Homo sapiens: one gene and its partner. The protein of the gene in region 2 purifies or fractionates together with the protein of the main gene of each other region. This does not show direct contact. Each region holds a gene or a part of one and is shown on either strand. Other genes may lie near its edges.

Region 1 (8,015 bases), on a different chromosome or scaffold from region 2:
TAAAGAGGTCATCCCTAGAACTACAGAAGCTCTTTCTGCCAACAGAGTTGTCTGGAGTTTATGGCATTAGCTTTGAGCAACAGGAAAAGTAGAATACAAAACTGCAATACAGAAACTACAAAATTTCAAGGAAGGACTGGCTGAGAGAAGCCTTGAGGTTGGAGGGGAAGGAATGGCATTGTTGTGAAAACGTGTTCTGGGAACTGAGCTTAAATTGAATTGTAGGAGGCTGCAGTCCCACTGGAAAATGCATACTGGCACCAAGATGACTGCTGCTTCCAGGAACATCCTCCCACTCCTTAGCAATGTGGAACAGATTGAAGGAAGCTCAAACAATCCATTTAAGCAGGAAGTAAATAGATTAAGAGAGCAACCAGATGGCCTAAGGCACTATCGGTATAGCTATCCCCACCCCTCAGCGCCCCCATCAGCTTTTCCTTCCTTGTTTCTTCTCACTGTCTGAAAGACTACTCAGGCGTGCACTGCGAGGTGGAGATCTGACTTCTCTTGTTCCCGCTTAAGACTGCCTCCTGTGTAAGTTTCTGCTATCTAGATCTTTGACTACCAACCAGCCAGGAGTGGTCTGCCTCTTCTTTGGTCTGAGCTTGCCTTGTGCTTATATTGTTGTACCCAAGCGAGTTAAGAAAATACCCCACACTTTGAGACGAATTAAGAGTCCTTTAGTAAGCCAGTGGCCAAAGAGACGGCTAATGCTCAAAATTCTCTCGGCCCCGAGGAAGGGGCTTGATTAACTTTTATACCTAGGTTTAGGAAGGGGAGGGGGACTCAAATGCAATAATTCTACAGAAGCAAAAACATGCCTTAAAAGACAAATGGTTACAAGAAGAGCAACGGTACCAGGTGCAAGGTTGTAAATCTTTCATTGTAATTAGATATAGGGTCTATGCCGGACACGAACTCAAGGTTTTATGTTGTTATCTTTTTGAGAAAAAGCCTGGGAACTTCATACATTGTTGGTGTTACTACCTTATCAGTTAATTGGGCTCTTTTGAAACGCTGAGGATCTGTTTACCCAGGCCAACTCCTTACTAAAGGGGGTTGGGTAAGGAGCCCTTAGTGTCTTGTAAATTAAGGGGTCAATTGGAGTTTGTCCGACCTTCCCAGCTAGAGAGAGTCTTATTTACATGAGAAGCAAGGCTGGGTGATTAAAGAGACAAGCAGGACAAAATTCAAAGTAACGAGTTAGAGTAAAAACAAGGTTAGGCATTTCAATATAGGGTGGTTCTTAGTCCAGCAGGGCGTTTTCCCGATAACCACCTGTTTAACTACATTCACCCTTGGTGCAAGTGCCAAAAAACAAACAAACAAACAAAAAGACCAAGGCGATAGGTATTTGCACCATAAACTTCTCCCATCTTTTATGTCCGTAATTTTGTGTTATTTCGCATTTCTGACTGTTTATAGAATTGAATTGGCCTTTACCTTATCATATAATAATATACTTTAATTTTAATCACAAATACATATGTTAAGTAGAACACAATCTAGGAAATACAAGATAATACAGAGAAAAATGGAAGTATTGGGGAAAAGGAAACAGCACAAAACCAAGTGTGACGAAAAAGATAAACTTTGACTTCTAATTTCAACTGAGAATCAATGGACAAAACATCAAAGCCATTATCTGAAATGCATGGTTCCATTCATGTGAGAGTTGGAGAGACAAATGTTAGTATTCCAAAAAAGAAAATAATTCGGTTTAGGCTTTGGGAAAATCAGATTCTGTGTCTTAACAGCAAAGGTCCAGCCCCAGCAGGAAGCATGAGAACCCAAACAATGCCCTTGTGCTAATATTGTTAAGTGGAGAATCTGTAAAGAAATAATGAAGAAAATGACATTCACACAAGCTTAAAAGGACATGGATGTTTTGCTAAAGAAAAAAATATGTGTAGAAATTAGTAAATCAAGGAAGTAATTTTGCTTAGCATTCAAGTGCATGGGCTTTGGAATAAGGTAGATCTGGTTTGAATTTGGCTCCAACACTAACTAGGCGCCTAGTTTTTAGAAAATAGCTTCAATTACTGCTACACACTGGATTATGTTATCTAAATTCATATGATGAAGCCATAACCTCCCAGTGTGATGATATTTGAAAACGAGGCCTTTGGTGGGTAGTTTATGAGGGTGGGGTCCTCATAATGTGATTAGCACCCTTATAAGAAGAGGTATCAGAGAGTGCTCTCTCTCTCTCTCAACACTAGGTGAGGACCCTGCATAAATATGGCTATGTGCAAGCCAGGAAGAGGGCTCATACCAGAAACTAAGTTGGCCATCCTTGATCTTGGAACCCTCAGCATCCAGAAGACCCAAATCAACTAAGATAGTAGTCTTCTCTAAAAAGGGGAAACTTTGCTGCATAGAGTTGATTTGCAAAACAAGTGAACAATGCATATGCCACAGTCTATTGCATCATGAAAAACCAGTGTGCAATAGGTCTTTTTGTTCTTAGCAAGGTAAAGACATTTGCAATACTGACAGGAGAAATGTCACCTACAAATACTCTAAAGTGTGAAGTGACATAAATGTTTCTGCACAGCTAAAACTTTGGTATATGTGGAACAGTATGGAAAATGAGGCCAGAAAGGTAAAATAGTAAGCTGCTTTTTGTCATAAAGAGAGAAATGGAACACTCATTGTTCAAAAATAGGTACATAATTGAGAGATTTTATTCAGAATAATGCCTGATTAATATAAATTTAGTCACTGTAATAATGTAGCTACATAATTTATATATATGTATATATATTCGCACATTTTTTGCTTTATCAGGAATTTTTGTATATTCTACTAATGACTTTTCTGTATGATAGCACAAATTGCAATTGTTGGCCACTGCCACAAAGTGGGGGAAAATGCACATTTTTAAGCATTTCTTTGCTTCATCTATGAAAATTTCATCTTTGTGGTATGAATTATGGAGCATTGTCCTGAGTTGCCCTTATAGGTGACCGCAGTTTGTGTGTTGTATGCTGGAGTCCCAATTGAGGACATTACTGCATATAAAATGATTATAAGTAAAAGGCAGAAAATGTTCTGAAGGGTCATAACTTCCAAGGGTTCTCTACCCTTTGACCTCTGGATTGGGGTTCCCAGTGACTGCCTTAATATCCTTCTCTACCTACTGCCTTAAGGCCAACTCAATGTATCCACGTAAAGAGTACCCTAAAGCCAGTAAAAGATTATCACGAACACCCAGAGATGTTTATGGCCATCATTCCAGATCCTCTTTGCTTTTTCTTGACTTACTCCTTTTTTGATAAAGTTATTCATATGGTTTCAAATCCAGAATTCAGCTATTCACTTCATGGCCCTAGTTTGGATTAAAACAATCAGCTTTCTTTTGCTCTGTAGATGGCCTTGGACAGTACATATTAACAGTCTATGGGGCCCCTTTTCCACTCATGACCACATCCTGCTTGCAGATCTGCTGCTGGGTTAACACCACATCATCTGCTAGTTGATGCCATTTATTTGACATCCTGGGGTTACAGCACGCTAAAGGGCACCCACTGTCCTTAACAGAGAAAAATACACTGCTGAGCAGAGGATTAAACAGACTCCTCACACTACCGGAAGTTCAGTGCATTTTCCAGGATTTTCAAGTCTTCGATGCTGTCATGTTGAGAGTCCACTATCCACGTTTGTTTATCCAGGAATAATGCAGAAAATCTGAGCATTCGTGAATCTAATCATTGAGGTAAAGTAACCTAGTCATGGTCAAGAGGACAGCTAGTGTTAAACTCCTTCATATAAATTTAAGGAAGGATTTACATATTCATAATGACTTTCTGATCTGGAAAGCCCAGGCTTGTCAGTTATTAATAATTGGATGAATACTTCAGGTAGTATTTAAACAAATAGCGATTTCATAGCAGACATTTCCCCAACCAGGAGATGCAGTAAAGTATTGGTAGCAATAGATGCTCCTACCAAGATCTCCTCCTGCCACTGCCACTCTGTGCACAGGAAAGGAGGGGAGAAGAAGCCATGTTGCTTCTCTTATATTTGAGCATCATTTAAGGGAATATAAGTCTCTAATGACTCACATGTAAGTCTGCTGGGTAAGAAAGTTCTAATGTTGGAACTCCTTTCAGCTATCGAATTTTGTAAGAAAAAAAACTTATTTGTGTTTATATACATTTATGAGATACAAGTGTAATTTCGTTACATGGATATATGCCATATTGGTGAAGTCAGAGATTTCAGTGTGCACATCACCCGAAAAATGTTAACTGTACCCATTAAAGTAATTTCTCATCCCCCATTTCCCCTCACCACATGCTCCAGCCCTTGCCAGGAAACTGTTCATTTTCTCTGACTAACAGAAACGAAAGCTAAAAACACTGGTGGGAGGAGTCTCCACATTGTTTCCTACTCCATTTTCTCTGGGGCAATAGCAGAATAGGAGCAAGCCAGCACTAGTCAGCTAACTAAGTGACTCAACCAAGGCCTTTTTTCCTTGTTATCTTTGCAGATACTTCATTTTCTTAGCGTTTCTGGAGATTACAACATCCTGCGGTTCCGTTTCTGGGAACTTTACTGATTTATCTCCCCCCTCACACAAATAAGCATTGATTCCTGCATTTCTGAAGATCTCAAGATCTGGACTACTGTTGAAAAAATTTCCAGTGAGGTGAGTACTGTTCCTGATTTTGTAAATATGATCTTGTTCCTTCCTTGAAGTCCCCAGAATCACAAGGGGACAATCAGTATTGGTTATTCAGGGTCATGGGATGATGGGAGTAGGGCTGAGTATTCAGAAAAGTGAAAACTGAGTTGCTTGATATGAATCCTTCATTTACTTAGGAAGATAACAGGCATCTTCTATTCCACCACAACTGAGGACTGAACAAGAGAAAATGCATTTTGACCGTTGCAGATTTTAAAATTAATTATCCGAGTGTATACTGGCATAAGTTGGTACTTAGAAGAGGGCTTCTGTTATTTTGGCTGGAAGAAGTGTTGGAAACTCGGTAGCTGTGGTGGGTTCTCAAGATAGTGACATGAAAAAAGTATCATGAAAGAATATTAAGTAAAAAACATATCTGAGCATAGAGATGTATTATATGACATCATCCCAATTTTACAAAACATAAGAACAAATGTACACAGAGTAGAAAATTTTTTTCAGTTTCACAAACACAGTTACTCAAGCACATGGTGTCTTAATATTTTCATAAGTATATTGATCCTTTACTTTAGCTCCATTCTGCACCGGGTGCTAGCGGCAGAATTTCAATCATTTTGGAATTACTCTCTGCCCTCCTGAAAGTTAATGATTTTTTTTTTCCTTGTGGCAAGGTATAGGGGAGTGGAGGGGAAGGCAGTTAGGAAAAGGTTACTATTGTTTACTTTTCAAATTTTTAAAAGATGTTTTCTATAGCCTGGTACAATATTTCATGTGTGCTTAAATGGAATGTGAGATTCTTAAATGTTGTTTTCAGAATTTTATTAGATAAATGTTGTTAATTACGTTGTTCAAATTTATTATATCATTACAGATTTTTTCACCTTGTTCATTTAGTAATTGAAGCATAAACTGAAATCTCCTATTATAAAGTTTGCTTTTTTGGCCGGGCACAGAGGTTCATGCCTGTAATCCCAGTACTTTGGGGGAGACCAAGGCGAGCGGATCACTTGACGTCAGGAGTTCCAGACCAGCCTGGCCAGCATGGCGAAACCCTGTCTCTATTAAAAATACAATAATTAGCCGGGTATGGTCATGTGTGCCTGTAATCCCAGCTACTCAGGAGACTGAGGCAGGAGAATCGCTTGAACCAGGAGGCAGAGGTTGCAGTGAGCCGAGACTGTGCCACTACACTCCAGCCTGGGTGACAGAGCAAGGCTCTGTCTCAAAAAAAAAAAAAAATTTTTTTTCTTTGTAGTGCTCTCACAATCACATACATGTTATGTGTATATATAATATACATTCACACACAAATATATGTATATATAATCATGTATACAAACAGGTACACACATATATGTGTGTAGTGATGTCTGTACATGTGTGTATATGAAGAGAAATATATACTAATTATAGTACCATGAAGCACTATAAAATAATAAATAATATCATTAGATAAATTAGATAAATTCATAACTAAAACATAATTTTCTAGGAGTTGAAACTTTTATCATGTGGTATCTGAAGTTACTTTTGGGCTTAAGGTATATTTAAAATTACACAAACATAGATAAACTGGCTTTCTTTAGTTATTCCTTGCAAGATAATTTTTAACAATTTTTTTCACCTTTTGTTAACAATATATATGTAGATTTCTTAAATCAAATTTGATGAAAGTTGTCACTTAACAGGTCAGACCTTTTAGGTATATGCTGGTAATTAACAATCTGCTGTCTTTACTTCAATTTATGACACTTCTATATCATCTCACTATCTAAGACAATTGCTTTAGTGAATTGTCATGTTCTTTTTCTTCCCTCCCTTTACCATGCTGTTGTAATTTCTGTTTCTCTTATATTTGATCAGGGTTTTCTTTGTAAGACATTAGGAACACCTAAAAAAGTTTATTTTTCACTCTTCTTATCTTTTGGCTGGCAGAATTTTTAATTTTATTCATGTTTTCCTATTAAATATTATTTTCAATAGATGTTTTCTTGTGGTATGAGTCTTTGTCTTGCAAAAAGACTGAGGCCCTGAGTATCACAAAATAGTTTTTGAGACTCTTCTATTTAAATATCATTTTGCCTAAATTAAAACTCTAAAATGTAAAATTATATTTTCCCTTAAGACAAGATGAAAGCACCTCTTCTGTGCTGTGGAGCTAGATACATTTTGAAGTTAAGAATCTGGAGGCTTCAGAAAGGCTATTTAGTGTATATATTCTAAATAGTGTCTTACTAGAAACTCCATTGGGATATAAATAATTACTCCAAAATCAAAAGCACTAATATTGCAAAACAAAACATGTGAGTGTTCACATTTCAGTGAAATAAAGATTATACATAGCCTACTGTCATCCCAAATCTGGTTTTATTTTGCAAATAAATTGTGCTGTCACACTTGTTGGAAACAAGTGCTCAGTGCCACAAAGAAAAACCAGCACTTAAACAGGAAATTTCTCAGCAAAGCATATTTGCTTCTACAGAAGGGTGCTGCCTGCGTCAGTCACAATGCACATTCTAAGCTGACCGGATTGGCTACTGCTTTAAATTCTATAGGGGTAATTAGGCGGGAAGGAAGACACTGTCCTGTACCAATTAGGCGGGAAGGCATGTCTGGGGCGGCAAAGGAAGGAAGGGTTGTTTACAGAACAGGAAAGAACAGGAAAGTTTGAAGACGAACTTATTGTTTCTAGCACACTCACAAAATAAGTCAAAACTTTCCATTGAAAATTTTTTTTGGTTTTGCAATTGATATGGAACTTTGGACCAACATTATATAAAAATAACTCCATTGTCCTGCTTCAGGCAGTTTTGATATAGAGATTCACTTTCAATTTGATTCTTGAATCTTTGTAGGTGATCTATTCCTCATTACCGAAGGCTTACAGAGTATTTTTGTTCATTATATTCTTCAGTTTCACTATAATGTGTTTTTGTATAGATTTTCCCTTCATTCTCTGGACCTTTTCAGTCCAAGGATCCTCATGTTCTCGTAAGAAGGAAGCTTTTTTTTTTTTTTTTTTTTTTTTTTGACGGAGTCTCACTCTGTCACCCAGGCTGGAGTGTAGTGGCACGATCTCCGCTCACTGCAACCTCCGTCTCCTGGGTTCAAGCAATTCTCCTGCCTCAGCCTCCCGAGTAGCTGGGACTGCAAGCGCTTGCCACCACACCTGGCTAATTTTTGGTATTTTTAGTGGAAACGAGGTCTCACTGTGTTAGCCAGGATGCTTTTGATCTCCGGAACTTGTGATTCGACCACCTCGGCCTCCCAACATGCTGGAATTACAGGCGTGAGCCACTGCGCCTGGCCCAATTAATAGCCCCTGAAATTTAGATATCTTGGTTATACACAAAGACATCATTCC
Region 2 (8,233 bases):
GCTATGTTGCCCAGGCTGGTCTCAAACTCCTGGCCTAAAGCAGTCCTCCCACTTTGGCCTCCTAAAGTGCTGGGATTATAGGCATGAGCCATCATGGCCAGGACATATGTTTTTCTTTTTAATTTTATTAATTTGGTTTATTTTTTAATTTTATAGACGCCCTGCTCTCAGATATAACACTTTTTTTCTTTTAATTTAACAAGATATTTTCGATCTCACTCCATACCTCTATATAGAGAAAACACCCATTCCTTTTTAAAGTCTATTTTTACAGCTGGTCAAAGAGTAAATCGTTATGTAATATTGCTAGGCATTTCCCAGATCTCCATAGGCATCATTCCAATTTGCTTTTCCACAGCAATGTATCAGAGTACCTGTTTCACTCTCAACCTCACTGACTTGTTAAACTTTTTGCCAATTGAAATTCTTGCCAGTGAGAAAATGATATCTCAAAAAGTAAGAAATGATATCTCAGTGTAGTTTATTTAAAAATAAACTTTTTGTTTTAGCATAGTTTTGTATTTACAGAAAAATTGTGAAGATAGTACAGAGAGTTCCCGTATAACCCCATACCCATTCCCCTGGGGTTTTTTCTGGGGGAGGTAGTGGGGCAGAGTTTCACTATGTTGCCCATGCTGGTCTTGAACTGAGCTCAATGATCCTCCCACCTCACCTTATCAAGTAACTGGGACTACAGACACGTGCCACTGCAGCACCCCCATTTTCCTATTATTAATATCTCACATTAATACAATACATTTAATAATTAATAAACCAATATTGATATATTATTGTTAGCTAAGGGCTATATCTGCTGGGCACAGTGGGTCTTGCCTGTAATCCCAGCACTTTGGGAGGCCGAGGTGGGCAGATCACCTGAAATCAAGAGTTCGAAACCACCCTGGCCAACATGGCAAAACCCCGTCTCTACTAAAAAAATACAAAAATTAGCCAGGCGTGGTGGCATGTGACTTAGTCCCAGCTACTCAGGAGGCCGAGACAGGAGAATCACTTGAACTTGGTGGGTGGAGTTGCAGTGAGCCAAGATCATGCCACTGCACTCCAGTCTAGGAGACACAGCGAGACTCCATTAAAAAAAAAAATTATATACTTTATCCAGATTTCCTTAGTTTTTCTTAATGTCCTTTTACTGTTCCAAGATCCCATTTAGGATACCATATTGCATTTAGTTGTCATGTCTCCTTAAGCTACTCTTGACTGTGACAGTTTTTTGGTTTTAACAGTTTTGAGGAGTACTAGTTAGGTATTTTGTAGAATGTCCTTTACTTGAGATTTCTTTATTATGTTTCTTATGATTAGATCAGAGTTATTGGTTTGGGGGAGGAAGGTCACAGAGGCAAAGTGCCATCCTTATCAAATTTTATCAACGGTACGTGCCACCTTTCTTTACAGTCATGTACAGTTGACCCTCAGGATTGGCTCCAGGGTACCCTGCAGACACCGAAGTCCACAGATGCTCAAATCCCTTACATAAAATGATATAATACAGTTGGCCCTCCATATCTGTGGGTTTCAATTCACGATTGGTTGAATTCTCAGATGTGAAACCCTCAGATACAGAGGGCCAACCGTATTGTGTAGCTATCCCTGAACTCTTTATTCTGTCCCATTAAAATCTTTGTCTATCTTTGTACCATGTTGTTGTACATAATGTAGCTTTATAATTAGTCTCAATATCTTTTAGGGCAAGTTCTACCACTTCGTTTTTCTCCAAGGGTGTCTGAGAGAGTCTTGACCCTTTACATTCTCATATAAATTTTGAAATCAGCTTTTCAGATTCCACAAAATACTTTTTGGAATTTTGATTGAGATAATGTTGAATCTATAGATAAATTTGGGGCCAGGAATGATGACTTATGCCTGTAATTCCAGCACTTCAGAAGGCTGAGGAAGGAGAGTTGCTTTAGGTGAGGGGTTCAAGACCATCTTGGACAACACTGTGTAAAAACTCTAGCCAGGCGTGGTGGCTCACGCCTGTAATCCCAGCACTTTGGAAGGCCAAGGTGAGTGGATTACGAGGTCAAGAGATCGAGACCATCCTGGCCAACATGGTAAGACCCCATTTCTACTAAAAATACAAAAATTAGCTGGGCATGGTGGCACGTGCCTGTAGTCCTAGCTACTCGGGAGGCTGAGGCAGGAGAATCGCTTGAACCCAGGAGGCAGAGGTTGCAGTGAGCCAAGATCACGCCATTGCACTCCAGCCTGGTGACAGAGAGAGACTCCGTCTCAAAAAAAAATTAAAAAAAAAAAACTCTCTATAAAAGTTTTTATAGAGAGTTGTGAGTCTTCATCTCTATAAAAACTTTTTAAAAATTAGCCAGGCGTGGTGGTGTGCACTTGTAGCTTGTAGTCTTAGTTACGCAAGAGAATCACTTAAGCTCAGGAGTTCGAGGTTACAGTGAGCTATGATCTTGCCACTGCACTCCAGCCTGGGCAACATAACAAGACACTGTCTGTATTAAAAAAAAAAAACATGGGAGAGAGTTGATATGTTAACAATATTGAGTCTCCCAATCCACTTATTTACATCTCCTCTAATACTTCCCAGCTTCATTCATTAGCATTTTCTCTGCAGAGGTTTTGTATATCTTTTGTTAATTTATTCATAGGTAATTGATCTATTTTAAAACTATTTATTTATTTATTTATTTTGAGATGGAGTCTCGCTCTGTCACCCAGGCTGGAGTGCAGTGGTGCGATCTCGGCTCACTGCACCCTCCACCTCCTGGGTTCAAGCGATTCTCCTGCCTCAGCCTCCTGAGTAGCTGGGATTACAGGTGCCCACCACCGTGTCTGGCTAGTTTTTGTATTTTTAGTAGAGATAGGGTTTCACCATGTTGTCCAGGCTGCTCTCAAACTCCTGACCTCAGGTGATCTGCTCACCTCGGCCTCCCAAAGTACTGGGATGACAGGCGTGAGCCACCGCGCCTGGCCAAAACTTTTTATTATGAAAATTTTAAACCAGTACCAAAGGAGACTGGGCCAGGAGTGTTGGCTCATGCTTGTAATACCAGCATTTTGGGAGGCTGAGGTGGGTGGATCACTTGAGCCCAGGAGTTCAAGCCTGGGCCACGTGACAAAACCCTGTCTCTTCAAAAAATACAAAATAAATTAGCTGGGTGTGGTAATATGCACCTGTTGTCCCAGCTATTTGGGGGGCTGAGGTGGGAGAATCACTTGAGTCTAGGAGGTTGAGGCTTCTGTGAGCCGAGATCATGTCACTGCGCTCCAGCCTGGGTGACAAAGTGAAACCTTGTCTTAAAAAAATAATCAATGACTGGGAGCGGTGGCTCACACCTGTAATCCAAGCACTTTGGGAGGCCAAGGCGGGTGGGTCACCTGAGGTCAGGAGTGCGAGACCAGCCTGGCCAACATGGTGAAACCCCATCTCTACTAAAAATACAAAATTAGCCGGGCATGGTGGCGCATGCCTGTAATCCCAGCTACTCAGGAGGCTGAGGCAGGAGAATCACTTGAACCTGGAAGGCAGAGGTTGCAGTGAGCTGAGATGGTGTCACTGCACTCCAGCCTGGGCAACAGAGCGAGACTCAATCTCAAAAAATAAAAATAAATAAAAATAAATGTATAAACAAATAATAATTTTCTTATATTAGCTGGGCACAGTGGCTCACAGCTGTAATTCCAGCACTTTGGGAGGTGGGAGGATTGCTGGACCCCAGGAGTTTGAGATCAGCCTGGGCAAGGTGGAGAGACCCCGTCTCTACAAAAAAATCCAAAAATTAGCCAGCCATGGTGATGTATGCTTCTGGTCCCGCTATTGGAACGGCTAACATGAGAAGATTGCTTGAGGCTGGGAAGTCGAGGTTTCAGTGAGCTGTGTTCACGCACTCCAGCCTGGGTGATAGAGGGAGATCTTGTCTCAAAAAATGAAAGAAAAAAGTAATAATTCCCTAATATCAAACACCTATTCAGTATTAAAATTTCCGCTTGTCTTGTAAGTGTCATACTTTTTTTGTATGTTTGGATCAGTCTGTTTGGATCAGGATTCAAATAAGGTTCATACATTGTGACTGACCAATATGTCTGTTAAATCTCTTTTAACTCATAACTTCCTCTTTCATAACTTTTTTATTCCTTGAATAAAATTTACTCAATTTACTTCAATTTACTCATTGAAGAAACAGGTTATTTTTCCTGTAGAGTTTCCCAAAGAGAGTTTGTAGAGTGCATTCTAGAAGTGTCGTTTAGCATGTTCTGCTTTCATCCATATTTCTTTTTGTTGTTGTTGTTGTTTTGTTTTTTTGAGAGGGAGTTTTGCTCTTGTTGCCCAGTCTGGAGTGCAATCGCCCGATCTTGGCTCACTGCAACCTGCGCCTCCCAGGTTTAAGTGATTCTCCTGCCTTAGCCTCCAGAGTAGCTGGGATTACAGGCTTGTGCCACCATGCCCGGCTAAATGTTTGTATTTTTAGTAGAAATGGGGTTTCACCATGTTGGTCCGGCTGGTCTCGAACTCCTGACCTCAGGTGATCCACCGCCTCAGCCTCCCAAAGTGCTGGGATTACAGGAGTGAGCCACTGTGCCTGGCCTCATCCATATTTCATTAGCAGTTAGATCTAGAAGGTAACTGTTGGGTGTTTTTTTTTGTTTGTTTTTTGTTTTTGTTTTTGTTTTTTGAGACTGAGTCTCACTCTGTCATCCAGGCTGGAGTGCAATGGCATGATCTTGGCTCACTGCAACCTCTGCCTCCTGAATTCAAGCGATTCCCCTGCCTCAGCCTCCTGAGTAGCTGGGATTACAACTGTGTGCCACAATGCCTGGCTAATTTTTGTATTTTTAGTAGCGACGGAGTTTCGCCATGTTTGCCAGGCTGCTCTTGAACCCCATATCTCAGGTGATCTGCTCACCTCGGCCTCCCACGGTGCTGGGATTACAGGCATGAGCCACTGCACCTGGCCTAATTGCTAGTTTTTATACTATTGTAAGTAACATCTTTCTCAAAATTTCATTTTTTGTTTATTACCATATATCAAAATACCTTTGATTTTTGTATCCACAATCTTGGTAACTCTTTTAATTGATTTGGTGAGTTTATTTACATAATTTTTTTTTTCTTTTTTCATTTTCTTTCTTTTTTGAGATGGAGCCTCGCTCTGTTGTCCAGGCTGGAGTGCAGTGGCGTGATCTCGACTCACTGCAACCTCGGCATTCCGGGTTCAAGGGATTCTCCTGCCTCAGCCTCCCAAGTAGCTGGGACTATATACAAATACATACATACATGTGGTATGTGTAGGCACACGCCACCACACTGGCTAAGCTAATCTTTCTATTTTTAGTAGATATGGTGTTTCACCATGTTGGCCAGGCTGGTCTCCTGTCTCGGCCTCCTGAAGTGCTGGGATTACAGGCGTGAACCACCATGCCCAGCATTGTAGATTCTTTTGTATTTCCTATATATGCAATTACATCACCTATGAATAATGATGGCTTTGTTTCTCCCTTTCCAGTGTGTAACCCTGTTTTTCCTTCCCTTACTGTGCTTGCTATGACACCCAGTGCATGTTGAACAGAAATAGAGATAGCAGATGTTTTGCCTTCTTTCTGATTTCTCTCTCCAACTTTTTACCTCACATAATGATTGTTGCTATAGTTTTCTAAAATCTACCTTTTATGGAATCAAGTGTCCATCTAGACTTAGATTGCTAAGAGGTGTTTTTTTAATGATGAACGACTATAGGATTTTAAGAGCTTCATTTTCTTCATCTATTGAGACAATCATGTATTTCTCCTCTATTCTGTTAATGTGACAGATTATATTGATTGATTTTTCTGAAAAATCATTCAGATTATAAACTACTTATACTTTGCTAGTATAAAACCACGAAGTAACAGGGTGGTCAGAGCATAAAAGAGCTAGCCATGGTAAGACTCGGGGAGAAATTTTTTTTTTTTGAGACAGAGTCTTGTGCTGTTGCCCAGGCTGGAGTGCAGTGGCGCGATCTCCGCTCACTGCAAGCTCCACCTCCCGGGTTCGCGCCATTCTCCTGCCTCAGCCTCCCAAGTAGCTGGGATTACAGGCGCCCGCCACCACGCCCGGCTAATTTTTTGTATTTTTGGTAGAGGCAGGGTTTCACTGTGTTAGCCAGGATGGTCTTGATCTCCCGACCTTGTGATCCGCCCACCTTGGCCTCCCAAGGTGCTGGGATTACAGGCGTGAGCCACCGCGCCCAGGTGAAATCATTCTATATTTACACAAACTCTCATAAATAAGAATAAAGGAAATGGTCCCCAATTCATTTTGTATTAATATAAAACCTGTAAGGATGGTACAGAAAAAGTGAATAAATTGATTCAAATTATTATTGAAACAAAATATTTAACAAAGGGAATTTAGCAATATATAAAAGGTAATACATCTTACTATTGCTAACTATATTAAACTGTGACTTCCTTTTTTTTTCGGTTAGGCCCATTTTTTGTCTCAGTGTACTTATTTTTATACATAATTATTTATCTGTTCACTTCTTTTGATTCACTCCTAAGATTTTTTCAGAATATTTTCTTTTTCTTTCTTTCTTTTTTTTTTTTTGATGGAGTTTTGCTCTTGTTGCCCAGGCTGGAGTGCAATGGTGCAATCTCGGCTCACTGCAACCTCCACCTCCCAGGTTCAAGTGATTCTCCTTCCTCAGCCTCCCGAGTAGCTGGGATTACAGGCATGTGCCACCATGCCAGGATAACTTTTTTTTGTATTTTTGGTAGAGATGGGTTTCTCCATGTTGGTCAGGCTGGTCTCGAACTCCCGACCTCAGGTGACCCACCCTCCTCGGCCTCCCAAAGTACTGAGATTACAGGCGTGAGCCCCCATGCCCAGCCCCAGGATATTTTCATGAGGGAAACCACTTGAATATTGTTTAGATATGGATGCTTTGGGTAAAGTGCTTTTTTGTTTTTCTTTTTGAAATTAAGAAGAAACATGGCGGCTATCCTTCTCTCACATCGAAAAGGAAATTTTGAACAATCATGGAAAATCTAAAACGTGCTGTGAAAACAAAGAAGAGAAATGTTGCAGGTAACAGCCTTATTTTGTTAAATGACAGATTATCTATGGTATGCTTAATTATTTGTTGACTCCACACCTCAGACCTGAAGAGCTGAGCTGGGTTGGGTCTGGGGGGCAGGGCAGGATTGGGTTGAGCTGGGGAGAGTGTGAGTATGAAACCAGAGAAGCTAGATCCAAAGGGCCAAGGAAAGGGTGTTGTTAGAAGGCAAGGCCGGGGAATAGTAGTTCTGAACCCTGGATCAGATGAATGTGTTTTTGTATAGATGTATCAGTAGGACAGAGTGAGAGGGTATGAGCACTAGCCATGACAATTCGATGGGTCTTAGTATTCTGCTTGTTTAAAAGTAATGGATATTAATGCCATATAATTGGAGGAGGCCAAAAGGTCGCTCTTATTAGATACTGGGCTTGCTTTGGGATAGTTGGGTTGTGTTGACGGCTAGGGATTGATTGGCCAAACTGAAAACAACACTAAGTGAGTAATTTTTTTTTTTGAGACAGACTTTCACTCTGTCACCCAGACTGGAGTGCAGTGGCACAATTACGGCTCACCACAGCCTCGATCTCCTGGGCTCAAGCAATCATCCTACCTCAGCCCCCCAAGTAGCTGAGATTACAGGTGCATGCCACCATGCTCGGCTAATTTAAAAAAAAATTTTGTAGAGGGCCTGTTGGCTCACACCTGTAATCCCAGCCTAGCAACATGGTGAGACCCCACCTCCATAAAAAATTTAAAAATTAGCCAGGCATGGTGACTGGTGCCTGTGGTCCCAGCTACTTGGAAGGCTGAGGTAGGAGAATGGCTCGAGCCCAGAAAATCAAGGCTGCAGTGAGCCATGATCGTGCCACTGCACTGCAACCTGGGTGACATAGTGACACCCTGTCTCAAAAAAAATTTTTTTTATTGGTAGAGATGGTGGTCTCCCTTTGTTGCCCAGGCAGGCTGGTCACCAACTCCTGGGTTCAAGTAAACTTCCCGCCTTGGCCTCCCAAAGTCTTGGAAGTACGGGGATGAGACACTGCACCCCACCATTTTTTTTTGTGATGGCATACACACCATAAAGAACTAAGATTGAAAAGGAATTGTTCATTTGAGTTTCTAAAGTTGGCCAGTATTGGCCAGGCATGGTGGCTCAAGGCCTGCAATCCCAGCACTTTGGGAGGCCAGGGCAGGTGGATCACCTGAGGTCA

Evidence for each region. Proteins that work in one complex are often made in the same cells at the same time.
Region 1: the proteins of CGAS (region 2) and IFI16 purify together in Homo sapiens (affinity purification with western blotting; 2 studies listed by BioGRID, with this or other methods). This does not show direct contact.

What each region holds. Positions count from the first base shown.
Region 1 is NC_000001.11:159,005,508-159,013,522, forward strand, and holds the start of IFI16 (gamma-interferon-inducible protein 16), read left to right. Parts: upstream 1-4,399; 5' UTR 4,400-4,654; intron 4,655-6,999; exon of another isoform or gene 7,000-7,973; intron 7,974-8,015.
Region 2 is NC_000006.12:73,427,527-73,435,759, reverse strand, and holds part of CGAS (cyclic GMP-AMP synthase), read left to right. Parts: intron 1-6,948; coding exon 6,949-7,051; intron 7,052-8,233. UniProt on the Homo sapiens protein: Nucleotidyltransferase that catalyzes the formation of cyclic GMP-AMP (2',3'-cGAMP) from ATP and GTP and plays a key role in innate immunity.